2 separate regions of the Homo sapiens genome follow, and region 1 is linked to region 2. Evidence: fine-mapped expression QTL. A gene starts in region 2. The other region holds a variant in brackets. All regions are shown on one strand. Distances are from middle to middle.

Region 1 (8,326 bases), 24 kb before region 2:
TGGCACCGACGGGGAGAGCTCAGGATGCCGCGGATATCATGGAAATGGCACCGACGGGGAGAGCTCGGAAATGGCACCAACGGGGAGAGTTCAGAACACCGTGGATATCTTGGAAATGGCACCGATGGGGAGAGCTTAGAACGCCGTGGATATCATGGAAATAGCACCCATAGCGAGAGTTTAGAATGCCGTGGATATCATGGAAATGGCACCGATGGGGAGAGCTTAGAATGCCGTGGATATCACGGAAGTGGCACCGACGGGGAGAGTTTAAAACACCGTGGATATCATGGAAATGGCACCGATGGGGAGAGCTTAGAACGCTGTGGATATCATGGAAGTGACACTGACAGAGCTTAGAACACTGTGGATATCATGGAAGTGGCACCGACGAGGAGAGCTTAGAATGCCGTGGATATCATGGAAATGGCACTGACAGGGAGAGCTTAGAACGCCGTGCATATCATGGAAATGGCACCGATGGGGAGAGTTTAGAACACCGTGGATATCATGGAAATGGTACCGATGGGGAGAGTTTAGAACGCCGTGGATATCATGGAAATGGCACTGACAGGGAGAGTTTAAAACGCCGTGGATATCATGGAAATGGCACCGATGGGGAGAGCTTAGAACGCTGTGGATATCATGGAAGTGACACTGACAGAGCTTAGAACACCGTGGATATCATGGAAGTGGCACCGACGGGGAGAGCTCAGGACGCCGTGGATATCATGGAAATGGCACCGACGGGGAGAGCTCAGGACGCCGTGGATATCATGGAAATGGCACCGACGGGGAGAGCTCAGGACGCCGTGGATATCATGGAAATGGCACCGACGGGGAGAGCTCAGGACGCCGTGGATATCATGGAAATGGCACCGACGGGGAGAGCTCAGGACGCCCTGGATATCATGGAAATGGCACCGACGGGGAGAGCTCAGGACGCCGTGGATATCATGGAAATGGCACCGACGGGGAGAGCTCAGGACGCCGTGGATATCATGGAAATGGCACCGACGGGGAGAGCTCAGGACGCCGTGGATATCATGGAAATGGCACCGACGGGGAGAGCTCAGGACGCCGCGGATATCATGGAAATGGCACCGACGGGGAGAGCTCAGGACGCCGTGGATATCATGGAAATGGCACCGACGGGGAGAGCTCAGGACGCCGCGGATATCATGGAAATGGCACCGACGGGGAGAGCTCGGAAATGGCACCAACGGGGAGAGTTCAGAACACCGTGGATATCTTGGAAATGGCACCGATGGGGAGAGCTTAGAACGCCGTGGATATCATGGAAATAGCACCCATAGCGAGAGTTTAGAATGCCGTGGATATCATGGAAATGGCACTGATGGGGAGAGCTTAGAACGCCGTGGATATCACGGAAGTGGCACCAACGGGGAGAGTTTAAAACACCGTGGATATCATGGAAATGGCACCGATGGGGAGAGCTTAGAACGCTGTGGATATCATGGAAGTGACACTGACAGAGCTTAGAACACTGTGGATATCATGGAAGTGGCACCGACGAGGAGAGCTTAGAATGCCGTGGATATCATGGAAATGGCACTGACAGGGAGAGCTTAGAACGCCGTGCATATCATGGAAATGGCACCGATGGGGAGAGTTTAGAACACCGTGGATATCATGGAAATGGTACCGATGGGGAGAGTTTAGAACGCCGTGGATATCATGGAAATGGCACTGACGGAGAGTTTAAAACGCCGTGGATATCATGGAAATGGCACCGATGGGGAGAGCTTAGAACGCTGTGGATATCATGGAAGTGACACTGACAGAGCTTAGAACACCGTGGATATCATGGAAGTGGCACCGACGGGGAGAGCTTAGAATGCCGTGGATATCATGGAAATGGCACTGACAGGGAGAGCTTAGAACGCCGTGCATATCATGGAAATGGCACCGATGGGGAGAGTTTAGAACACCATGGATATCATGGAAATGGTACCGATGGGGAGAGTTTAGAACGCCATGGATATCATGGAAATGGCACCGACGGGGAGAGCTTAGGACACTGTGGATATCATGGAAATGGCACCGACAGCGAGAGTTTAGAATGCTGTGGATATCATGGAAATGGCACCGATGGGGAGAGCTTAGGACGCCGTGGATATCATGGAAATGGCACCGACGGGGAGAGCTTAGAATGCCATGGATATCATGGAAATGGCACCGATGGGGAGAGTTTAGAACGCCGTGGATATTATGGAAATGGCACCGATGGGGAGAGTTTAGAACGCCGTGGATATCATGGAAATGTCACCGACGGGGAGAGCTTAGAACGCCATGGATATCATGGAAATGGCACCGACGGGGAGAGTTTAGAACGCCGTGGATATCATGGAAATGGCACCGACAGGGAGAGTTTAGAACGCCGTGGATATCATGGAAATGGCACCCACAGCGAGAGTTTAGAACACCATGGATATCATGGAAATGGCACTGACAGGGAGAGTTTAGAACGCCATGGATATCATGGAAATGGCACCGACAGGGAGAGCTTAGAACGTCGTGGATATCATGGAAATGGCACCAACAGGGAGAGTTTAGAACACCGTGGATATCATGGAAATGGCACCCACAGCGAGAGTTTAGAACACCGTGGATATCATGGAAATGGCACCCACAGCGAGAGTTTAGAACACCATGGATATCATGGAAATGGCACCGACAGGGAGAGCTTAGAACGTCGTGGATATCATGGAAATGGCACCAACAGGGAGAGTTTAGAACACCGTGGATATCATGGAAATGGCACCCACAGCGAGAGTTTAGAACACCGTGGATATCATGGAAATGGCACTGACAGCGAGAGTTTAGAACACCGTGGATATCATGGAAATGGCACTGACAGCGAGAGTTTAGAACACCGTGGATATCATGGAAATGGCACCAACAGGGAGAGTTTAGAACACTGTGGATATCATGGAAATGGCACCCACAGCGAGAGTTTAGAACACCGTGGATATCATGGAAATGGCACTGACAGCGAGAGTTTAGAACACCGTGGATATCATGGAAATGGCACTGACAGCGAGAGTTTAGAACGCTGTGGATATCATGGAAATGGCACCCACAGCGAGAGTTTAGAACACCGTGGATATCATGGAAATGGCACCGACGGGGAGAGTTTAGAACGCCGTGGATATCATGGAAATGGCACCAATGGGGAGAGTTTAGAACACCATGGATATCGTGGAAATGGCACTGATGGGGAGAGTTTAGAACACCGTGGATATCATGGAAATGGCACCCACAGCGAGAGTTTAGAACACCATGGATATCATGGAAATGGCACTGACAGGGAGAGTTTAGAACACCGTGGATATCATGGAAATGGATTTCAGAAAGGCTTTTGTATGTTAGTTTTCAGCCAAGTCAAGAAGTGAGATGCATCCACATCTGGCTGCATGCTTGTAATTAGAATCTGACTTTCAAATTCGTCTCAATGTGTGTGGAAGTCTTAGAACCACAGTTCATCCTGCAGTTTGTTCAGTTCTGATTAAAAGCACTCACTCCACATGTGCCAGGCACTGCAATAGGCTTTGGGGATACAAAGGTTAATAGAAGAGTTCATGCCCTCAAAGAGCTCATTCAGTCCTAATACACCTTCAAACCGGAAGTGTCCCTGCTGACACAGAGCAAAATGACCACTTTTATGAGCGACATGAAACTGGGAAGGGGACCCAGATATCCTCCTGTCCCCATCCCCGTCCCCCAGCACAGGGCCTGTGTCCCAGCAGCCTGCTGGTAGACCA[A/T]AGCAGCCAAGGTAAAAGGCCAATCCCGGCTCTCCCCCCAGCCAGCTTCGCACCACTCAATCTGTGGGAAATTGAGGGCATCATATTTGGACCATGACTTACTTGTGGTTGTTTGTTTAATTGGTTTTGATGAGTTTGGTTTGCTTTTCTCTCCTTGTACGATTTGCCCATTTTCTGTCCTCGGTTTTTCCATGTCTGAGTAATAGTCTTCTTTTGTCTTATGCCCATCCCCCGTTTTTGCCAGAGCCTTCCACCCTCCTGCCTCAGTCTCCACAGCCTGCTCCCTCGGCCTCCTCTGGGCTGGCTGTCCTGGGTCAGCGGTGAGTTCTTCTTTCTTGGGTTACATGCTTTGCGGCTTCTTTGCTGAATGCAGTCAGGGGCAGGGGCAGGGGCAGGCCCAGGGAGCTCGCCTGTCTTGCCCTACAGAGTCTTCAGCTCCCAGCTCTTAGCTTGACCCAAACGAGATACTTTCACGCATGTGTGTTACAAACTGGAGCAAAACCGCGCACTTGGCAACTAAGGAGAGTTAGCCTGCAAAGAGAAATCTGGGATGGGTGGAATCTGTGACTTCAGTTATGACGGACTTTCAGGTGAAAAAATGTGTATTTATTTTGAGTGGACCCAGATGGCAGAACAAGGATGATTGGATACAGTTGTGGAGATGTAGTTCCTGCACTATGGACAGCTGTGGGCTGTGCTCCCCGGCAAGGAAAAGGCGAGCAGCCACCCCAGAGCGCCAGTGCAGAGGCTCCCTTGGCACTAGGGTGTGGGGCAGGTGTGGGCTCCTCCACCACAGGGCAGTGGGTGAGGAGCACCAGACCCACAGGATGGCTTCCAGGACCAGTCTGTAGCTCTTGGACTTTAAGGGCATACTGTTCTCTTTTAAAGAAAAGTTAAAACTGTGGCCTGATGCGCCTTTTTTTTTTTTTTTTTTTTTTGAGATGGAGTCTCATTCTGTCACCCAGGCTGGAGTGCAGTGACGCGATCTCGGCTCACTACAACCTCTGCCTCCTGGGTTCAAGTGATTCTTCTGCTTCAGCCTCCCAAGTAGCCAGGACTGCAGGTGTCCACCACTACTCCTGGCTAATTTTTTTTCTTCTTTGTATTTTTAGTAGAGACGGGGTTTTACCATGTTGGCCAGGCTGGTCTTGAACCCCTGACCTCAAGTGATCACATGCCTCGGCCTCCCAAAGTGCTGGGATTACAGGTGTGAACCACCATGCCTGGCCCTGATGCACTTTCAAAGTTTTCCATAACAGTGAGTTTTAAGTAGCCAAGCTCTAAATCTAAATAATTGCCCAAGGGTGATGGTTAAGGAGACTGCTGAGTGGGAAGAACAGAGAGTAGGGAGGCTTGGGAAGACCAGGTGAGGAGGAGCAGTCAGTCAGAGAAGAGCCTTGGCAGGAACTGAGGAGGGAGGCGTGGACAGCAGCATCCGTGGGAAGGAGGACTCCAGAGGCTCCTGACTTGGGTGAGGGAGCCAGCCACAGTGGGCCCTGGTCTTCCAGCCAGATGGGACCGCTTGCCAGAGGATCCTTGGGGTGTCACATTTCTAGCTGGAAACTTCTGTGGCTGGTGGCACCCTTGCCCGAGTTTTGCTTGGGCCCACTGGGCTTGTTCTGCCCACTCAGCCTGGCATGCTGCACTCAACTCACGCTACTGGCCTGGATCCCACACCTGCCAAGAGCGAGTCAGGCACAGAGCAGTGAGGGGTGTGTGAGTGAGCATGGGGTCCAGCCACTGTGCAGTCAGGCACACCCGCAGCTGCTGCAAGGTGGGCAGCTCCAGTGCTGGCATGGGCGCCCACTCTCTGCAAGGCTGCAGCTGGACCAGGTGCACTGCAAGCAGCTTCCACAGCTGGCACTGGGGAATGCAGTATGCCAGGAACCACAGGGCCCCAAAGAGGGAGTCCAACTCAGAAGGGGCAGGGCTCCTGCTTGTTCCTGGCCTGGGGGGCTCCCAAGTCTAGGCTCCCTGAAGGGCTGCAGCTCTTCTCTCCTTCTCTTCCCCCATAGCATGGCAAGCAAGGGGCATGTCTCAGCCCTGTTTGTGTTATACCAGCTCTTTTAGCCTTGCCATTTGACGGGTCCCAAGTTCTTGTCCTGTGACCAGGAAGAATGAGGTCTGCAGACAAGTGGAGGGTGAGCAAGAGGAAGACGAGCTTTATTGAGCGATACAACGGCTCAGAGGAGACCCGCAGGGGCAGCTCCTTTCCACAGCCAGGGTGTCACAACGCGTGTTCAGCTCCTAGCACAGAGGAGACCGTAGAGTGGGAAGCTCCTCTTGGCAGGCAGGCCATCCTGTCATCTCTGAGGCTCTCAGCAGAGAGGAGGCCCTGGAGTGGGTTGCTCCTGTCTGCAGACGGGCCATCCCTTTGTGCCTGCGGCTCTCAGCAGAGAGGAGGCCCTGGAGTGGGCTGTTGCTCTCTGCAGGCAGGTCCTCTTGTTGTCTCCCCAGCTCTCAGCAGAGAGGAGGCCATGGAATGGGTAGCTCCTCTCTGCATCTGGTTGCCCTGATGTCTGCTCAGCTCTGGTTGAGCCTAGGGCTTTTATGGGCCTTAGAGGGGAGGAAGTGCACTGTGATTGGTACATTGGCAGTCATGGGTAAAGGCACCAGAAGTTCCCACTCTGGTCTGCAGGACTGGCAGCCCAGTCCCCAGCCTTCAGGACCTCCCTGGCCTGAAGGTGGGGGCCTCACCAGGGACCTGCCCTCTTCCACCCAGGAACTTGTCTGCGTCCTGCTGCTATTCATGGTGTCCAGGCTATAGGTGCCAAGGGGTGCCTGCAGGCCAGTGCCAAGCTACCCTCAGCCCACCCTTGGCTTCCCTCCTATTCTCGGTGCTTAAAGTCTGGAGGGTGCTGAGGCAGCAGGGGGCTGGTGTATTAGCACTGCCCTGAGCGTGTGCACACCTGGCCAGGCTGCAACAGTGCCCAGGCTCGCCCTGACTTTACTCTGAGATCAAAGTGGACACTGACAGCAGGGAGAAGCCAGGCAGCAGAAGCAGGCACTTCCAAACCTGCGAAGGCCGGGGATGGGGCTTCCTGGGCCCCCTAGAGTGCAGAGATGCCTGGGTCTGCAGCCATGGTTTGGGTGGCTGTAGCTGCGCCTAGGAGAGGGGCTTCTCTCTGCTCCCGGCTTCCAGGAGCACAGGGATGCCTGGGTCTGCAGCCATGACTTGGGCAGCTGCATCTGTGCCCAGAGGGGTGGGGCTCCTGCCTGCTCCATGGAGCAGAAGGCCTGGATCTGCAGCTGGGACTTGGGTGGGGCTTCTGCCTGCTCTGTGGAGCAGGAGGTCTGGGTCTACAGCTGTGACTTCAGTGGCTGCAGCTGTGCCCAGGAGAGTGGGGCACCCATCTGCTCCCGGCCCGAGAGCACAGGGATGCCTAAGTCTGCAGAGAGCTACCACCCAACTCGGAAGGGGCAGGGCTCCTGCTTGTCCGCAGCTCCTGCCAGTTCCATGGAGCATGCAGCCCTGGCTGTGCCTCCCTGCTGCAGCTGGCATGATGGCACCAGCCACTTTAGATGGACCGTGGTGTCATCACTGAGACCCTGTCTTGACACAGCTGTCAGGACACTCTCTAGCCACACTTGCCTTCCTGCTGCCAGTGCCGCCGTGGCTCAGGTGGCTGCAGTTCCTTGAGATGTCCCAGTGGGTCCTGGGTGAGCCCATCCAGCTGATGGGCCATGAGGCAACAGGCAAGTGGACAGGCCAGCACTGTCCCCCTTCCTCTTCTTCTGCCCCTTCAACTGCAGGCTGGAAAATTCATATGTTACCAGGAAAACAGCCGGCTACCCAGGGCTATTTACCTCAGGGGCCAAGCTTCCCGTGGGATGAGATCGTTGGGCTCAGAGAACGTGTTGAGCAAACACAGTACTTTCTGTGAGCTGGGTTAGGTTGTAAAAGCCTTACAAAGAGTAACCTAATCATCAGCACAACCAACAGAAATAGATGTTTGTTTTTTTAATCATCATTGCATTTCACAAATTAAACAGAGGGTAAGTCACTTGCCCAGTGGCACACAGCTCTCAGGTGACAGACTGGGATTTGGATCCAGGCAGGCTTGTACAGACTCCAGAGTCCCAAATATGGCTTCATCCACAGTGTCGGAGCAGCAGCGAGGGCTCTAAGACCACCCAGCTCTCTTCCTGGCTATTTTTTCCATGCTACTCATCCCAAAACTTGATCTCACATTGCTCTGTTTCTTTCTCTGCCTCCATGCTTGATGCATTTACTTAATCTTTCGCAGGATGGGTCATTACTTTTTGCAATAGCACACTCAAAGGTAATGACCAAGATAAATTGAAAAGAGGATTCAACAGTATTCATTGTAAGATTGAATGGGATATAAAATACGTAATCAGCACTTGTGAGGAATATCACTAGATTCTCTTCTTCCTACTCCCCCTCCTTTTTTTTTTTTTTTTTTTTTTGCATTAAAACCCGGGAATTTGATGTTGATTGTGGCCTAAATGTTAAGCATATTCTGGATTTTCTACACCGTTCTGACACCACAGGTACTTGTTTCTTTCTCAGAAGGCAG
Region 2 (8,326 bases):
CTCTCCAATGCTGCAGAGCCCTGTCAGGAGGCCTGGGGACAGGCATCCAGCGTGTGAGCAGGAAGCCAGAGCTGAGCCAGGCTGGCTTGGCGTGGACCTGGCGGAGCCTCCTGGGTGCCAGCCGCCACATGCCCATCCCAGCCTCTGCCCTCGGGAAGCCAGAAGTCACAGGAGAGACCCTTGTGGGCGGTGGTCTGTGCTCCGTCCCCACTGCCCACTCTGGTCCCTCGGCTGGCACAGCTGGCTCTGTCCGTCTCCCACCCTTCTCTCCATGTCCTGCCTCCTGCTCAGAGCTCATAGCACAGTCTCTCCCCACCCTTCCCCTGCAATACTGCTTCTGCTTGGCCACAGCTGACTTTATCCCTCTCCTAGCCCAGGGCACTGGCCATGTGCTCCCCTGCCCACTGTGGCCCAGTGCCCCCAAATGTGGGGCAAACCGCACCTCTCTGGACCCTCTGCCCACGAGGGGCTCTTCCCGCCAGACCAGTTGCACACCACGAACAGTGCTGGCACGTCTGCCTGTTGGGTAAGTGGCTCGGGGACATCTGCTTGGAATGGGGCATCCGCGTGGACAAATGAGTGAGGAGCCCAAGCCTGCACTGGGCAGGGGCAGCACCGAGGCTGGCACAGGGAGGCCCAGTTCATCCCAAATGAGGAGGGACCCAGGACTGGGCACAGTCTCTGTCTGGGGAGTGGTTCCCGCCAGCCAGGCGGCCTCCTGTCTGACCTGACCTGGCCCTTGCTTCCAGGGACGGCTGACAGTAAGCTTGTAATTACTGCTGCTCCTCAAGACGACATCTGTCCCTACCACATGGCTTGGGGGGCAGGTGTGGGGCGGCCCCGTACCTGCCTCAACTCCAGCCAGCAACATGGAGGGTGGAGGACGACGGGGCCCATGGCCAGGTTGGTGGGCTCCAGTTCCTCCTCGGGAAAGTCTGAAGTCCGCTGTTGTCTGGGGCCTACACTGACTGTCCCACACCCATATCAGGTGAGACCCAGAGACCCAGAGCCAACAGGCCCTGACCCACGACCCAGCAATGCGCTCCAGACCACAGGCGCTCCGTGAGGCCAGTGGCTGCCACCCAGCTGAGTAGGGAGGGAACTGCCACTCGGCCCCAGCGTTCCCAGCCTGCCCTGTCCAGCAGGTGCCTGGAAGAGCTAGGAGAATGCTCATCAGCACCTGCCCCGCCCCAGGCCAAGGCGCCTGTGAGCAGAGCCCCGAGCTGTGTGGTGGCTGGGTCCCGAGACCCCCACAGGTGCCCTGCAGCATAGCTGTCACCCGGTGGCCACACAGGGCCATCCTAGCAAGCTTCCTTGTCAGCTGTGACACACAGGTCACCTGTGGGTGCGTGTCTGACAGGACAGAGTCTCTCAGGTACTGTCTGGAGCCTCCTTTCATTCTTTCCTCTGGGCTGTGGCCCTGTAAGATGCTTTCAACTGCAAATAATGTGCAAGAGTCACATCTTCAGTGTGTGAATCAACAGAATCCTAAATCTTCTAGGCACCATCTTGCAGTACGCACTACGAATCCCTACTTGGAATTTCTCAGAGCCTTAGGTTCGGGTTTGGTGGTCGCCCTGTGGCAGGGTTCGGGGCTGCTGTGTGTCCCATGTGACCTGTATGTCCGTTACCTGAGGCGCTGTCTACAATCTCATTGTCCCTGCTGGGCAGGACTGGGGCGGGAGGGATGAAGGCCCTGGGGCTCTGTCGCAGCCGCACCAGTGTCACCCTGGCGATGGGAGGCAGGGCCTTCAGCCGCGGGTAGTAGAAGGAGTTGGCCGGGTGGCTGGGAGAGGAGGACGTTATCTGGGGAGGAAGAAGAGGAGGTTGGCCTGGGGTCCGAGAAGCCCACCTTCTGGTATGCGTATGGCCTCACTGGGGCCACTGCCCAGCGTCCAGCGTGCCCTCTGCACCACTGTTGGGGACAGGGTCCCATGTACTCCTCTCAGCCATCCCACGGAACACGGGCTGGAAACCGAGGCCAGGAAGGGGCAGCCTCCTCGGGACGCGCGTCCCGCTGTCCTCCCTGCGGTGCTGTGACCCCGGGTTGGGAGAGTATGGGAGGGCTGCACCCCCTTGCTCACTGCTGGCGCTAGAAGCAGAGCCTCTTCCACACAAAAGCCGCAAGCGGCTGTCCTGGGCTGGGAGGCGAGGGTGCAGCCAGGCCCCAGCCCCGTCCCCACCGCGGGGGCCATAGCGGCCCTTGCGCACGCGGGGTGCCCACTCACCTCGGTCACCGTGTCCTGCGGGATGGTGGCGAAGTTGGGGGAGGAGAAGGTGAAGCCGCTGTCCGTCCCGGCGTCGTAGGGGTACAGGTCCAGCGCCGCCTGTTCCCGCCAACGGTCCCCGTCGCACAGGTCCAGGCTGTCCACGCCCACGAACCAGTCGGGGCTGGGCACGATGCGCACCACAAACGAGACCTGCGGCGACAGCGGCTCAGCGCGCCTGGCCCCGGCCCCCCGGACCCCGCCCCCGGCCGGCCCCGCGCTCACCAGCGAGTGCCTGCGCTGCACCTCCAGCTCCGCCGACGTCTGCCCGGTGCCGCTGGGGACGGCGGGCGCCGAAAACACCGCGTGCACGCTCTGCAGCGCCTCCCCCGCCGCCTCGATCTCCTTCATCAGCGCCCAGGCCTCGCCGCGCTCCGCAAAGTCGCGCAGCCCGTTACTGACGTACTGGTTCTTCCTCCACATGCTGTAGTCGGAGCTATGCGCGGCCCCTGCAGGACCACCCGGCCGCGCCGCGGACCATGGTCAGACACTGCGGTCGGGCTTGGATTCCAGGGGGCGCCCCAGGAAATCCCTCCCCGCCGCCCGCAGGGAACCATGGCCCCCAGTCACGTCGGACCGTGACACCCTGTGGCTGCCCCTGCCGCGACCCACCTGCGCCCTCCCCGTGAGCGCCCCCTGCCCCCACCGCATCCCCGGAACCGCACACCGCAGGCGCTCGGCAAACATTCTGGTGTTAGAGTCTCCCGACGTCAGCACGCCCCAGACTGGGAAGCGCCGCCGTGCAGCTGTGCGGGGGGCTCCGGCGCCGCAGCCCTCCTGGTGGAGCAGGAGGCGAGGAGGGGGCTGTACTTACCCAGCAGCGAAGACCACTGCGCAGGGGGGCGGAACAGGGGGTACTGCTTGGGGAAGGCCGTCTGGCTCCACTTGCCCGTGAAGGTGATGCTGTATTTGGCCAGGGCTCTGGCGGAACAGATGGACTCTCCCCCAAGAGGCTGGCCGGCGGCGCCGAGAGTGGCCAGGAGGAGAGCGCAGAGGGCCTTGCCCAGGGCGGCGGCCGGGCTGGGGTTTTCCATCACCTGGGAGCACAGAGGGGAGCAGCCGCGCGCTGGCACCGTCGTGGCAGCCTCGGGGTGGAAAGCCGAGAGGGCTGCGGCACTTTGGGCTCTGAGGACGGCCCCGAGCACCCGCGACCCCCTCCCTGCTCCGCAAAGCTCTCCTGCGGTGCTTCCGAGACCCCCATCAGCGGAATGGACGGCGCGGGGTTAGATCGCCCGTGCGCCTGCGAGCGACCAGGGGTAACGGGCAGGTTTTCAGTCCGAGTCCCTGCAGCTTGCCGGGCCGGTCTGGGTGCGGCCTCCGGGATGCCTTCGCCGTCGCAGGGACCCGGGGCCTTGGCCGACTGGCTGCCCCCGGGACTAGACCCTTAAAGCTCGGTCGCAGCCAGTCCTGGGGGTCCCTCTGGAGGTGCCACAAGGTTCTGGGCCGCGGGGAAAGTGCAGGAGGCCCGGGCCCTCTCTGGGTGTCCCGGGGGCACGCAGTACTCACCCGGCAGGAGCAGCGGGAGCGCGGCCGGCAGCGGTCGGGTCCCAGCCAGAGCCCGGAGCTCCTATTTAAGCCCGAGGCCGGCGCCCCGGGCCGGCCAATGAGGCTCCAGTTCCTCCTGTCTTCGATGCTGCACGGCCTGGCCTCCAGCGAGAGGCAGATAGGACGTGGGAGAAAGGAGGAGAAGGGGCTGCGGGGGCGGCGGGGGCTGCCGCTTTCCCAACTCGCCCTGCCCAGCGACCTTCCCCGGGTCGGATCACCCTCTTCCCCTGGCAGTGCTGCCGCACCCCTTTCTTTGTCTGTCTGTCCTATCCCTCCCCTCCCCTCCCTGTCCCCTCCCTTCCCCTCCCCTCCCCTCCTCCCCTCCCCTCCTCCCCTCCCCTCCTCCCCTCCCCCCTGTCCTCCTCCCTCTCCCCGTTTCTCTCCCGTTCCAACAAGCGCCTTCCTGGTGCCTCCCTAGGTGCCACTGAGGGGAGTTCTTTGCCCCAAGCCTTTCGGGAAAGCTCAGGGCGTGGGGGCAGAGGGGCTCTTGTTTTCACCTTCTCGAAATTAGAGCCAGCGTGCTACACCTTCTTGCGCAGGGTGTGACCTGGAGAGCCCTGTGCGTGGCCTGACTTCAGTCTACATGCTGGAAGTGGCTGGGGAAGCTCCTGGCTCCCGGCGCAGGCATCCCTGGCCTTTGGGGCCCTGGCTTTAAGTCTCTTTCCTGGCATGGCCTAAAGCTGCACAGAACAGCCTAGCGGTCTGCACTGTGGCCAGAGGGCATTTGCAAGCCATCCCTCCTGGAGGGAGGTCAGAGTGGGCTGAGGGTCTGGGGTGGAACGCGCAGGGAGTCAGGAAGAGCCACAGAAAGGGGGCCCCCCTCCCCAGGACCCCGCACAGGGCTGGGGCTGCAGGCCGGCGGTGTGTGCGGTGCAGAGCCCTCCCAGGGGCTCTAGGCTTCCCTGCCTTTGGGATGAAGCTAACAGATGCTGAAGTTGATCCTGCTCCATGTCAGGAAAATATTTATAGGTCCCCAGTCATGGGATCTGGAAACAGAGCGGAGGAAGGAGCTCGGGAATGGTCTTGCTCAATCCTTCCCGGCCTCTGCTCATCGGAATCACCCAGAGGGCTTTTAAGCTTAGACAAAACACTCTGATGTTTGGAACCCTGTTAATGTTTCACAGATTCAAAAAGAGAGAAAAAATAAATAGAAGCAACTAGGACAGAATGCAAACAGAAACAAATGATCTAACCTGTATTTTAAGCGAAAACCACAGATCAGCCACTCAATGCAGTATTTAGACTCCAGGCCCCCAGGCCAAAGACAAATTTCCACCTCCGTGCTTCTCAAATGTTTTTATCTGAGGACTCCTTCATACTCTTAAAGGTCACTGAGGGCCAGGCGCAGTGGCTCATGCCTGTAATCCCAGCACTTTGGGAGGCCGAGGCGGGAGGATCACTTGAGCCCAGAGTTTGATACCAGCCTTGGCAACACAGGGAGACCTCATCTCTACAAAACATACAAAAATTAGCTGGGTGTGGTGGAGTGCGCCTGTGGTCTCAACTAGTCAGGAGACTGTGTCTGTGGTCCCGGCTACTCAGGAGACTGAGGTGGGAGGATCACCTGAGCCAGGGGAGGTCAAGCCTGCAGTGAACTGTGTGTGCCACTGCCCTCCAGCCTGGGCGACAGAGTGAGACTCATGCCTGTAATCCCAGCACTTTGGGAGGCCAGGGCGGGCGGATCACTTGAGGTCAGGAACTCGAGACCAGCCTGGCCAACATGGTGAAGCCCCATCTGTACTAAAAATACAAAAACTAGCTGGATGTGGTGGTGCACGCCAGTAATCCCAGCCACTCAGAAGGCTGAGGCAGGAGAATTTCTTGAACCCAGGGGGCAGGGGTTGTAGTGAGCCAAGATCGCGCCACTGCAGTCCAGCCTGGGCAACAGAGCGAGACTCCATCTCAAAAAAAAAAAAAAAACAAAAAAACAAAAAACAAAAACAAAAAAAACTAATTGAGGACACTGAAGAACTTTTTTGTTTGTATGGGTTATACCTATGGATACTTATCATTTTCTAAATCATAACAGAAATGTTCAGAATACTTGCCAATTCACTTAAAAATAAGAAAATATTGCTATTACACATTAACATAAATAGCATAATGTTTTATGAAAAGCAATCATACTTTTAAAAATGAAAAACCCGCCTGAGAAAAGTGGCGTGGTTCTACGTTGGTGCGAATCTTTGTATTGTCCGGCTTAGTGGAAGCTGGATTCCCATATCGGCTCCAGCACTTCATCTGCTGAGATGTGCTGTTGGTTGAAGTCTATGAAGAAAATCCAGCCTTGGCTGCGTATGTTACCAGCCTTGTCAGGTGCCTGCTCTGGCCTGCAGCCCTCGAAAGCCGCCGTGTGCCCATCAGAGCATGGGAGCAAAAGGTGCCCTCATGCAATGGGCTTCGATCTCATCATCTGCCTGGAAGGATCTCAGGCCCTCCACGAGTCCCCAGAGCAGGACTGGCAGCCGCTGCTCAGAGGCTGGACTCGAATCCACAGGCCTTTTTCCCAGAGCGGCATGGGGCGGCTGTACTGCAGCTACTCTGCATCCCTGGACAATCCTCGCTTTCTGGACAGCTTCCTCGGCTGAAAGGAGCACAGGCTCCATGGCAAAGCTACTGGCTCTGGGTCTGAGGAGAGGAAGGAGGCGCCGGGTCTGGGGCATGTTCCTGTGTAGGAAGCCAGGGTGCCGCTCCAGAGACTCGCTGAGGCACAGTCCCCATCTCAGTCCAGCTCTGGCCGTGGCAGCGGCTTCCAGGCTCACCCAGTCTCACAGGAGGCCAAGGAGGCTGCGGAACAGCCCAGGGGCAGCAGGAGCTGTTCTCCCAGCCCGGCCCTCATGCCGTCTCAGTGAGCTCTGCGACCTGGGGCCCCCACTTGGCGGTGGGCCCAGGCTGGGGGGTCTCCAGCTAGGATGTAGGGCGGTGGTGGGCCCAGGCTGGGGGGTCTCCAGCTAGGATGTGGGTGGTGGTGGGCCCAGGCTGTGTGGGGGGAGTCTCCAGCTAAGATATAGGGTGGTGGTGGGCCCTGGCCTGGGTGGGGGTTCTCCAGCTAGGATGTGGGTGGTAGTAGGCCCAGGCCTCGGGGGCTTCAGCTAGGATGTGGGTGGTGGTAGGCCCAGGCCTGGGGATCTCCAGCTAGGATGTAGGGTAGTGGTGGGCCCAGGCCTCGGGGGCTTCAGCTAGGATGTAGGGCAGTGGTGGGCCTAGGCCTGGGGGTCTCTAGCTAGGATGTGGGGTGGTGGTAGACCGAGGCCTTGGAGGTGCTCCAGGCAGGGCCACAGCTGATTTGTCTGGGAAGGGAGGGGGCTTGTTTGGAGGGCTGGAGTAGACAGCAGCCAGGAGGAACTTCCTTTGGTAGTGGGAGGCCCCTCCAAAAGCACGCCTGCGAAGGCCCTAGGGCACCAGGGGACATGGGAGCATTCTTTGCTGTGCTCAGAGAGGGGGACATGGGAGAACTGGGGCCAGGTGGGCTTAATTTTCTGGATCCTGTGGCCCCTTGGGTTGGATCGGGCTGGGGTCTCAGGCAGAGCTGTTTCTGCACTGAGGCAGGGACTGCAGGCCAGTGACGGAGTGATCTTGTGTGACTCCATGCTCTCAGAGTCTTGCTGGAAACCCCCCTGGCTCTCAGACCCTCTTCTGTGAACCAGAAGTCTCTATCCTGCCTTCTGCTGAGGGTCACAGGATAAGTATCCATAGGTGTAACTCACACACCAGCACTTTGCAAGGTGTCCCCCCACCCACACAGAAGAGTTCCTCTGTGCCCGCAGGCAGGAGCAGCCCCCCACATACACACACAGTACATTCATTCATTCACTCACACAGTACTTTCATTCATCCACCCATTCAAATAGTACATTCATTCATTCACTCACTCACACAGTACATTCATTCATCCATTCACACAGTACATTCATGCAATCATCCACACAGTACATTGATTCACACAGTACATTCATTCACTAATTCACTCACACAGTACATTCATTCAAGCATCCATTCACACAGTACATTCAATCATCCATTCACACAGTACATTCATGCAGTCATCCACACAGTACATTCATTCACTAATTCACTCACACAGTACATTCATTCAATCATCCATTCACACAGTACATTCATGCAATCATCCACACAGTACATTGATTCACACAGTACATTCATGCACTAATTCACTCACACAGTACATTCATTCAATCATCCATTCATACAGTACATTCATGCAATCATCCACAGTTCATTCATTCATTCACACAGTTCATTCACACACTTCATTCATTCATTCACACACTTCATTCATTCATTCACACCATTCATTCATTCATTAACCACAAGGTGAGTATTCCTTGCATCTCAGAGATGGGGACAAAGGAGTGACCCCACTAGGCCCAAGGTTGCAGGGGGCTGGGGTGGAGTGGATACATTTTGTAGATTGGATTCTCTTATTCAGTAAAGTGTTTAGTGAATTGGTTGACAGCAATGCCAGGGTCCTCTGAGGACAGGGCCTTCCTGGA

Which allele goes with the higher level. Alleles are on the strand shown, and positions count from the first base shown. SD is a standard deviation of normalised expression in the study named.
In carriers of allele A in region 1, the expression in skeletal muscle of the gene that starts at base 3,813 in region 2 tends to be lower than with T alone (moderate effect, 0.41 SD a copy in FUSION).

What was found.
Region 1: its variant is fine-mapped to the expression of SPON2 in skeletal muscle (FUSION, PIP 0.95).

The regions. Positions count from the first base shown.
Region 1 is chr4:1,144,745-1,153,070 of GRCh38, forward strand. The region is part of intron 1 of LOC124900647 (nascent polypeptide-associated complex subunit alpha, muscle-specific form-like); the gene reads left to right. LOC124900837 (hornerin-like) reads left to right here and starts at 687. Exons shown (of 2, transcript XM_047416541.1): 1 at 687-1,190; 2 at 1,806-8,326. The coding sequence starts at 687. The coding sequence ends at 3,416. RefSeq lists enhancers at 5,014-5,514, 5,515-6,015. The variant A/T (reference allele first, on the strand shown) is at 3,786.
Region 2 is chr4:1,168,771-1,177,096 of GRCh38, forward strand. SPON2 (spondin 2) reads right to left here and starts at 3,813. Exons shown (of 6, transcript NM_012445.4): 1 at 3,774-3,813; 2 at 3,082-3,304; 3 at 2,493-2,716; 4 at 2,229-2,420; 5 at 1,632-1,806. The coding sequence starts at 3,301. All of the region lies in intron 1 of LOC124900647 (nascent polypeptide-associated complex subunit alpha, muscle-specific form-like), which reads left to right. RefSeq lists enhancers at 2,993-3,708, 3,709-4,426.